2 linked regions of the Homo sapiens genome follow. The protein of the gene in region 1 purifies or fractionates together with the protein of each later gene. This does not show direct contact. Each region holds a gene or a part of one and is shown in the gene's direction. Other genes may lie near its edges. The genes, in order: SCRT2 and HIBCH.

Region 1 (4,570 bases):
AGCTCACTGCAGCCTCGAACTCCCAGGCCCAAGCGATCCTCCCACCACATCCTCCCAAGTAGCTAAGGCCACATGTGTGCACCACCACACCTGGCTAATTTTTTTTTTTTTTTTAACTATTTGTAGAGACAAGGTCTCACTATGTTGCCCAGGCTGGTCTCAAACTCCTGACCTCAAGTGATCCTCCTGCCTCAGCCTCCCAAAATGCTGGGATTACAGGCTTGAACCACCACGAGGGGCCCCAGTTTTATTCTGAGACTTCTGGGCTACACCTCAAGGACCATGATAGGCCCTGATTCAGTGGTGCCCAGAGGCCACTGAGGTCTCTGGCAATTGCTGCTGACTCACTGCATGACCTCAAGCACCTCCAAGCCCTCTCTAGGTCTTAGCCTGCAAACTGGTATTGGATGACCCAGTCCCAAAAGGACATCCCCACTCCACCAGCCTTGCATCTCATAACCAGAATTCCATTGACAGCGAGAGCCTGGAATTCCTAGAGTCTGATTCTGGGACTCTTGTGCACTGGCCATCCCACACTTGCTAAAGCAGGTCCGCCACCATGGGGCTTTGCCCAGCACCCTCTGGGCAGGGGGCTGAGCTCTCCTGCTCCTTGGTCCTGCCAAGATATGGGGGCTCCCCCAGGTTTGGGTCGGACTGGGGGTGGCGGGTCTGCTCAGATCCTTTTAGAGACAAAGGAGCTGACCTGCAAAGAGTTCCAGCAGGAGCCCCGCTCCCCCTCCCTTCCCCCCTCTCCCTTCCCAGTCCACGTGTCTCTATTGTCTGCTCCCCGCTTCAGGGAAAGACACTGCCTCGGATGTGTCAAAACCACCACCCCCCGGCAGCAGGAAAATTAATTACTGGACGATTTTCACTTCCTCTTGCAGCGCCCGCCTGAGCTAGGCACCGGAACAGGACCAACCGAGCAAGGCCAGGCATCGGCGTGGGGGACTTGCTCCCCCCACCAGTTCTGGAAGAAGAAAGTTGAACCCCAAACCCAACAGGGGGCTCCAGTGGGAGCCCGAGCAGGGGGGAGGGGAGACTTACTCTAGTGAAAGCTGAGCGTCCACCCTGGCCACTTCAGAACTGGGGGAGAGGGAGAGGACTGGAGGCGGGAGGGTGGCCGCTGGCCAGTGCGCACTCTTTCCTCTGCATCCCCTTCCCTGCGGCCCCATGTGCCTGAACCCCGCCTGCTCGGGACCGCTTTCCCTCCGTTCCCCTCGGCTTCCCCCTCTCTTTTGCACTTTTCTTTCCCTTTCTTTGCATCCCTGGGGGGGTTTCCTTTTTGTGTGCCTGGATTTCTCTTTTCCTCCCGTGGGTGTGTGTGTGTTGCTACTTCTCTCCATCTCTGTCTTTCTTCTCTCTCTGTTTCTCTCTTGTGTCTTTTTGTCCTTATCTTGGTCTCTCTGCTTCTATTTCTACCTCTCTCAGCGTGTGCGTCTCTCTTTCCCTGTATGTCTCTGTCTTTCTCCGAGTCTCTCTTCTTCTCCCCGCCCCCCTCACTCCCCTTTCTCCGTCCCTCTCTGTCTCTGCGCCTTTCTCGCCCTCACTTTCTCCCCTCCTGCCTGCTCCGGGCCTGCCCCCACCGCCGCCGGTTCAGGGGAACGTGTGCGGAGCGATTGTCCTGGGGGACATTTGATGGATTAGAGCGCCGAGCGGTTCCATTGCTAGGGGACCACCTGATCTCCAGCCTGCGTCCCATATAAAGCCGGCAGCCGGAGTGCTGAGCGCAGCTCCCGCGATCCCCTGTCTGCGCGCCGCCGCCGCCAAGCCCGAGCCCGAGCCGGGGCCGCCGCCACCGGTGCCGGCTCCGAGCGGCCTCCCGCGCTCCAGCCCGCTGGGAGCTGTCCAGTGCTGAAAACCCGCGCGGACACAGCCGATCGCGCCCGGCCGGCCGCCTCCCCGCACCGAGCCCCGCGCCGGCCGCGCCATGCCGCGCTCCTTCCTGGTAAAGAAGATCAAAGGGGACGGCTTCCAGTGCAGCGGGGTGCCGGCCCCCACCTACCACCCCTTGGAGACAGCCTACGTGCTGCCTGGCGCCCGGGGGCCTCCCGGGGACAACGGTGAGTGGGACCCGGCGGGGGCGGGGGGTTGGGAGAAGAGGCGAGGGGAGCTGGGGCCCTCCCCAGCTTGGGCCACGAGGAGGGGCGCGTGCGACAGGAAACCCCCGGGAGGAGATCTCTCTGGCCGTGGGCTCCTCCCGGGCTTTCCAAGGGCCGTGCGGGCGGGGCAGGGGCTAGGTCGTACAAAGGGAAAGTCGCGGGGTCGGCCCATCCCGCAGCCACGCGCCAGCCGGGACTTTGAAAGTTGTGGCCCTCAAATAGGGCTAGAGTGAGGGGGTGGCAAGAGAACACAGACGGGGCTGCTCGTGAAAGGCCAGCGCTGGGCACTGAGGCACAAGGCACTTTGAGGGTTCCCTCTCCCCCGTTGAGGAAGAGAAGCTGGCTGCCCGGGAAGGGGGAAGGTAAAGAGCCCTGGATGTTCAGTCCCTGGAGAGACAGGGTTGGTTCCCTGGGGGTGGCTGGGGGCGCCCTCCCTCCCTTCAAACCTGCTCCCCTGCCGATGTCACACAAGTGCTCTCAGACCCCCTCTCTCAATAACTCTTTTGTTACCCTCAGCCACATGCCTGCCAAAGGCTGGGCCTGTCCTGGGGACTGCAAGAAAGAGAGGATTTCTGGGAGGGGTTCCCCCAAAGTGGCTCCTGGTCCCCTGGATTGCACTCCTTCCCCATCCCCAGCTTCTCAACCCCCTCCAGAACCAACCCTGCTGCTCCTCGTAAGCCCCCTCCTCACTACACATACACACACACACACACACACACACACACACACACACACACACACTCCATCTCTTCTCAGAACAAGTTCCTGCAGGGACAAGGGTTTGAGGAACAAGAGAAGTCATTCAGGTGCAGAAGGGGGTGATCTCTGGAAGGCAGGGGAAAGTGGAGACTGCTTCTGTGGATCCCATCCTCCACCAAGGGGATCACAAAGGGGTTCTCCCCTGATGGCCCCCACCAGGGCAGGTGTCTGAAGAGGAGGTGTCCCTTTGGTAGTGAGAGATCTGACATCACATGTGGCAGCTTTGGGTTGTGTGTGTGTGTGTGTGTGTGTGTGTGTGTGTGTGTGTGTGAGAGAGAGAGAGAGAGAGAGATGGGGGTGGGGAAAGAGAGAGAGAGAAAGAGGGAGATTGAGAGAGGAGAAAAGAAAGGACTGAGGATGAGGGGGGAACTGAGATGGCAAAGACAGGAGCCTGGGAGGATGGGGGCTTCCACCTCTGGGATTTCCAAGCACTTCACCCACATTCCATCACTCTGCCACACCAGGTAGAGAGAGAGAGAGTGCTGGGCAAAGGGCTTTGTGACCTCATCAAGGTCAAAGAAGTTACAGAGTGATCAGGGATACAGCTACAGCCCCTCATCCACTGGCATCCCCCAGACCCTTAACAGAAACCCCTTCTCCTCTGCCCACATGTCCCTTATTCTACTGTCCTCTTTTCTTGATCACAGGGCCTCTTGAGGTGGAGGTCAGAAGCCCAGGGACATGGCTGAGCAGGGCTGAGGGCTGGCAGGACAGAGGGTGGACCTGGGGCCATGCCAAAGCTGGAGAGTGTGCGCTCAAAGCTGGTAGAAACTGAAATATCTGCAAGCTTGGGATATGGATCTCTTAAGGGACTGACACTGACACAAAGCTCTGGGATTCCACCCCCTGAAGCCCCGTTGGTCCTGTCCCCAGGCCAGCTGAGGAAACCCAGAGAAGCCCAGAGAATTTCCCATGCACAGCCAAAACTGCAGGCTGTTCCTCAGGAGGGAGGCAAGAGAATGCCTTGCCTTGAATTCAGTCCAAAAAAAAGCTTTGAAAGGAGCCCCTGAGTGAATAGTGGGAAGCAGGGCGGGTGCAGAGCCACCAGCAGGGTGTTTCTGCAGAGGTTCCACCGGGTTTAACACCCTAGAACCACCTCTGTCTTTGTCCCCTTCCCCATGGGTCTCCAGACCAACTCCCTCACCTCTCAGGAATCCTGAGGCTGTGCTGATAGCCAGAAACCTGGCCTGAAATTTGGAGGCCTGGGCTCTAGATCTCTCACATGCTGTGTGACCTTGGGCAAGTGCCTTCCCTTCTCTGGTCCTCAGCCTCCCCAGCAGTGAAAGAGTTTTGATGGCATAAACTAAGCATCCTTCCAACTTTGACAAGCTCAGCTTCTGTGAAGGTCAACTATGGAATGTCAGGCACTGGAGATGCCTGCACAGGGGTCTAACAGGATGCTGGGAGGCCACTGTCAGGGTTTCCTTAGGGCTCCACTGAACATACGCCACCTGGCTGAGGGTAGCGGCATTTCTGGGATCGGGCACTTTTCTTGGCTTTGGTCTCTGTAGGCTACCCCATAGTGAGGACAGGCACCCTGGCCTGGCCACCTTGGCAGTGTCTGCAGTGGACGGTCAGTGCCAGAGACCAAGCCTAGGTATGACTGGGAAATACAAAGTCTGCCTTGTCTTGTTTTCAGGGGCCTCTTCCCTCCCTGGGGTGCGGCCAGACTGGGCAGTGAGGGATCCCTTATTCCCTGGGCGGGTGGAGGG
Region 2 (4,329 bases), on another chromosome or scaffold:
CCAGAAGACGATAGCATCATTAGAAGAAATAGAGAATTTAGGAATAGGAAGGACAGCTTGGTGGAAGGTGTGGCATAACTGACAGGTCTTGATACCTACGAAGTCCTAAGTAATTTATGCACATATTTCTATATTTCAATGGATCTTCACAAACACCTCTAATCATCAGCACATCCATTTTCAGATGAGAAAATGGAGGTTCTGAAAAGCTATATAATTTGTTCAAGGTCATTAAACTATTAGTGTGCTAGGGGTAGGACTGATTACATAATTTGCAGGCCTAGTGTAAAATGAAAATTTGTGTTTCCTTGTTCAAAAATTATTAATAGCACAGCATTAAAACAAGCACAGGGCCCTTCTAACGATGAGGCCTTGTGAGACTCAGGTTTCACACACATGAAGCTAGGGCGGCAAGGAAGATTTGAATCTCAGTCTGACTAACAGGAAAGCCCATGCTTTTTCCAGTAAACCATGCTAGGTCAGATGAATGGTTCATTTCTGTGCGCAGTGAATGAGGCATGATGGTGATGTCAGATGGTGATGTCCTGTAGCCAGTTAAAAACCAAATTGCAGGTAAGGAGTTCCTTCTGTGATGTCTGTTGTCTGTCCTCTTCTCAGTGGGCATTTGGTTATTACATTTGACCTAGGTTAGCAACGTAATTTTTGATCAAAGTCTCAACAGTGTATCTCTTTAAATATCAAGGTACTAAGAATAACTCCTTTCATGTGTCCTCTCTGAAATTTGTCACCGGATTTCTTCTTTCTGATAAATGTGTCAATACTTAATAGTGGCGATGAAATGTCTTCTGCTACACATCTGGGTGGATCTGGAAGCGGAGGAACGTTTTCCTCAATTTAACAGTGGATCCTAGTAGTTGAGTTAAATGTTGGTTTCATTTAAGAGTAAGCTACTTTCTGAATGTAATTATGCTTCCACTGATAACAGCAACTTTTACTTTAGTTGGGAAGACATATCTATTATGTCTTAATCAGACAACTCTTGTGTGTCTTTGAGGAAGAGTGGGAGATCTGTAACTTTTCCCAAGAAAAATGAAAATGTCTCAATCCTAATATTAAAGGAATTCGGCTGTATTGGGTTAGGAATGAATAAACTACATCGATGTCCTTTATCAACTGTAATTCCTCTACTTGAGTCTCAAAGAATACTAAGTTTACGTTTTAATAAAAAATTACTAAAATTCCAGAAAAGTCTTTCACATCAGTCCCTGCTGGTCAAATTGGCAGGCCAAGCCTAGACAACAGGTTGCGCTTTGGGCTAAGACAGCCTCTAGAGGGCAATCTCCTTTCCTGCGAATCCGCCCTAGTCCGTTCTATCCTCCCTCTTCCCGCTCCGCCTCAGCTCGCTCTCCGCCTTCTCCCTGGCCCGGTCCCCGATCCCTTCCTCTCCCTCAACTATTTCCTCCAGGCGTCGTTCTTGCCCCGCCCTTCCCCGTCGCGTAGCGGAAACGGTCGCTCTGGCTTCCTGGAGGACTTGTCATCTGTGCCCGGCGGCGCAGGACGGCGGTGGGCGGGGCTCACGCGAGGCGCTGGAACGGTCCGGGAGATTCTCGCTCTGCTGCTTTAGCTTCGGAGTGTTTGGCGATGGGGCAGCGCGAGATGTGGAGGCTCATGTCGAGGTGAGTGAGAGAGCGAGGGGCCAAGGGCAGGCTCTTCAGCGGCACTCGCCACAGTGGGAAAAGGGCCGGGGGTGGAGACTGCTGGCCTCGAAGTTTCGAGTCGCGCTCAGAGGCGCCGCTGTGAGACCCCAACCTTGGCCCTCCCCAAGCCCCAGCCCCCGTCCCTGTCTTTCCTTTCTCCCTCTAGCATCTTCTTTGCAGCAGCACTCTGGTTTTCTGCCACTCTGGCTCTTAATTCAGGCTTGTCCCCACACGACTTTAATTCTTTTGGCCTCAGTTTCTTTCCTTTCTTAAAAGTTGGGTGCAGTCTGGGGACACGGACAGATTTAGCTTAGCGGAACTGTGCGGCATGTTTTGTGCAGCCAGCACACACAGGTGCTTTGCCAGTTGCTGCACCTCTCTCTGCCCGTGGTGTGATTTTATTCAGCTTTCTTGCATGGCTGCAGCGTCAGTATAGGCATTTGGAACTTTCAGGCTAGTGTTGAGGGACATTTAACGTGGCATGGGGGAGCATGTTTGCAAACATTGTTTAACTTTTTGAAAGTACCCCTCACTGCGCTTTGAGCTCAGCCTAGGAAATCTGGTAGCCATCATCTTTAGGCTGCATGCGCCTTAAACAGCCCACTGCCTGGCCCTGTACTGTCATACCAGGTAGCAGCTGCGCCCACTTGAAGGGAGAACCGTCCTTATTTCTTTAAAATAAGGACGACTTAAATTACTGGATTCTTTAAGCCTTAGAGTTTGCCTTCTGGGTTTCCTGAAAAGGGATGGAGGTGTTTCCTTGACTTAAGAAGAATAGTTTCAGGGGAAAGTGTCTAGATGTCTAACACTGTATCCACAGACCTAATTCTCAGTAAATTTTTGTTATACATTTAAGAGTTGCTTTTCTGTTTGTTTTTTTAATACCTTAAAATTAGTTGTCCTTGCACCAGCTCATGGAGAGATTTAGTAAATGCTAAGAAAATCAGTACACGTAATCGTTACTGCCGCTTTTTCAGTGTTGTCAGCAAATAGCAAATAGAGAAACAAACTGGAAAGACATGTTTGTTAAAGTTAGCTGACTTAGGAAAGGATCTGTCATTTCCACAATTCAGCTTGGCTTTCTTCCACCCCACGTTCCAAGATGCAGTACTCTGTAGGTGAGGCCAGGACCATTTTGGGGGCTTTGATCTGAGATGCCTTTTCCAGACTCAGCCCTGAAGTGGGTATTATCCTAGAAAGCAGAGGCCAAGATGGTCCAGTCCACAATACCCTAACCCACAACTGTATAAGGGAATAGGGTGCCACGGAAAGTGTTTCTGAGAGGAAAAAAGGCCTTGGGCCATGGTTGACAGTGTTGGGCAGCCCCACTTGAACTCTGGCCTCCCTTGGCTTCTTCGGTACTGGCCTACTTTTCTAATGCCACTCTCCACCGCCTCTCCTTACCCCAGTGCCAGTTTAGCTCTTGGACTTTTTTTTTTTTTTGGTTCCCAAATCATCTGTCTTAGGGTAACTCAAATTTTTGTCTAACCTGACTTGCCCTGAGCTCTAATGCTGGTCACAACCCTCTGAATGCCTCAGTTGCACCTCATATATAAATTTGCACTTAAGGGCTAGGCGCGGGGGCTCACACCTGTAATCCCAGCACTTTGGGAGGCCGAGGCGGGCATATCATCTGAGGTCAGGAGTTCAAGACCAGGCTGGCCAACATAGTGAAACCCCGTCTCTACTAAAAATACAAAAAAATTAGCTGGGTGTGGTGGCAGGGCCCTGTAATCCCAGCTGCTTGGGAGGCTGAGGCAGGATAATTGCTGGAACCTGGGAGGGGGAGGTTGCAGTGAGCCGAGATCATGCCACTGCACTCCAGCCTGGGCGACAGGGTGAGACTCTGTCTCAAAAAAAAAAAAAGGAAAAAAGGAAAAGAAAAATAAATTTGCACGTAAGTATAACCCTTACTCTTTGTCTCTCTTGGCACTATCATTCTTCTAGATTCTCAAACTTACCTAAGTTCTCCCACACTCCCAAACCTTAACCTCTTCCTGTGGATTCAGGTTTCAACAGTAGTCTCAAAGTTAATCACTTTTTCCTCTTCCCAGTGTGAATTGTTTCTGTACAAGATTGCCAGGTTAATCTCGCTAAGGTTTTACTTCAGTGCCTGCCATTCTTCTCAGAATCTCACAGAGGTGCCCTTCTGCTTATGCAATTAAATACAGTTTTACCAGTCTGGATTTCACAGATTTGGCCCCAGTATATTCATGGATGAACAATTACCTACTGTTCTGTTCTACTTGCTGGGAAGCACAGTTCTAGGCATTTCTATTATCCTGTAGCCACTCTGGACTACTTGGTTTTCCTACTGTTCCTTATGTAGGGCCCTTGGAGTCTGAAAGGAGAGCAGATAGGAAACACATAATTAGACAAAAGTAATTTTTGATTACCAATTCTGGTAAGTGTCTTAAGGGACAAGTACAGTTATGAGAGCCAGATTTAGATAGGGAGAGGGAGTCAGGAAGCCTCATCAGAGAGGTTGCTCTTCGCTGGGTGTGGTGGTTCATGCCTGTAATCCTAGCACTTTGAGAGGCCAACATGGGAGTTCAAGACAATCCTGGGCAACATAGCAAGACCCCGTTTCTACAAAAAATAAGAAATAAAAAAACTAGCTGGGTATGGTGGCATACGCCTATCCTTCCAGCTTGGGAGGCTGAGGTGGGAG

Evidence for each region.
Region 2: the proteins of SCRT2 (region 1) and HIBCH purify together in Homo sapiens (affinity purification with mass spectrometry; one large-scale study listed by BioGRID and IntAct). This does not show direct contact.

What each region holds. Positions count from the first base shown.
Region 1 is NC_000020.11:672,959-677,528, reverse strand, and holds the start of SCRT2 (transcriptional repressor scratch 2), read left to right. Parts: upstream 1-1,726; 5' UTR 1,727-1,927; coding exon 1,928-2,060; intron 2,061-4,570. UniProt on the Homo sapiens protein: May be involved in transcriptional regulation.
Region 2 is NC_000002.12:190,317,024-190,321,352, reverse strand, and holds the start of HIBCH (3-hydroxyisobutyryl-CoA hydrolase, mitochondrial isoform 1 precursor), read left to right. Parts: upstream 1-1,526; 5' UTR 1,527-1,602; coding exon 1,603-1,637; intron 1,638-4,329. UniProt on the Homo sapiens protein: Hydrolyzes 3-hydroxyisobutyryl-CoA (HIBYL-CoA), a saline catabolite. Has high activity toward isobutyryl-CoA. Could be an isobutyryl-CoA dehydrogenase that functions in valine catabolism. Also hydrolyzes 3-hydroxypropanoyl-CoA.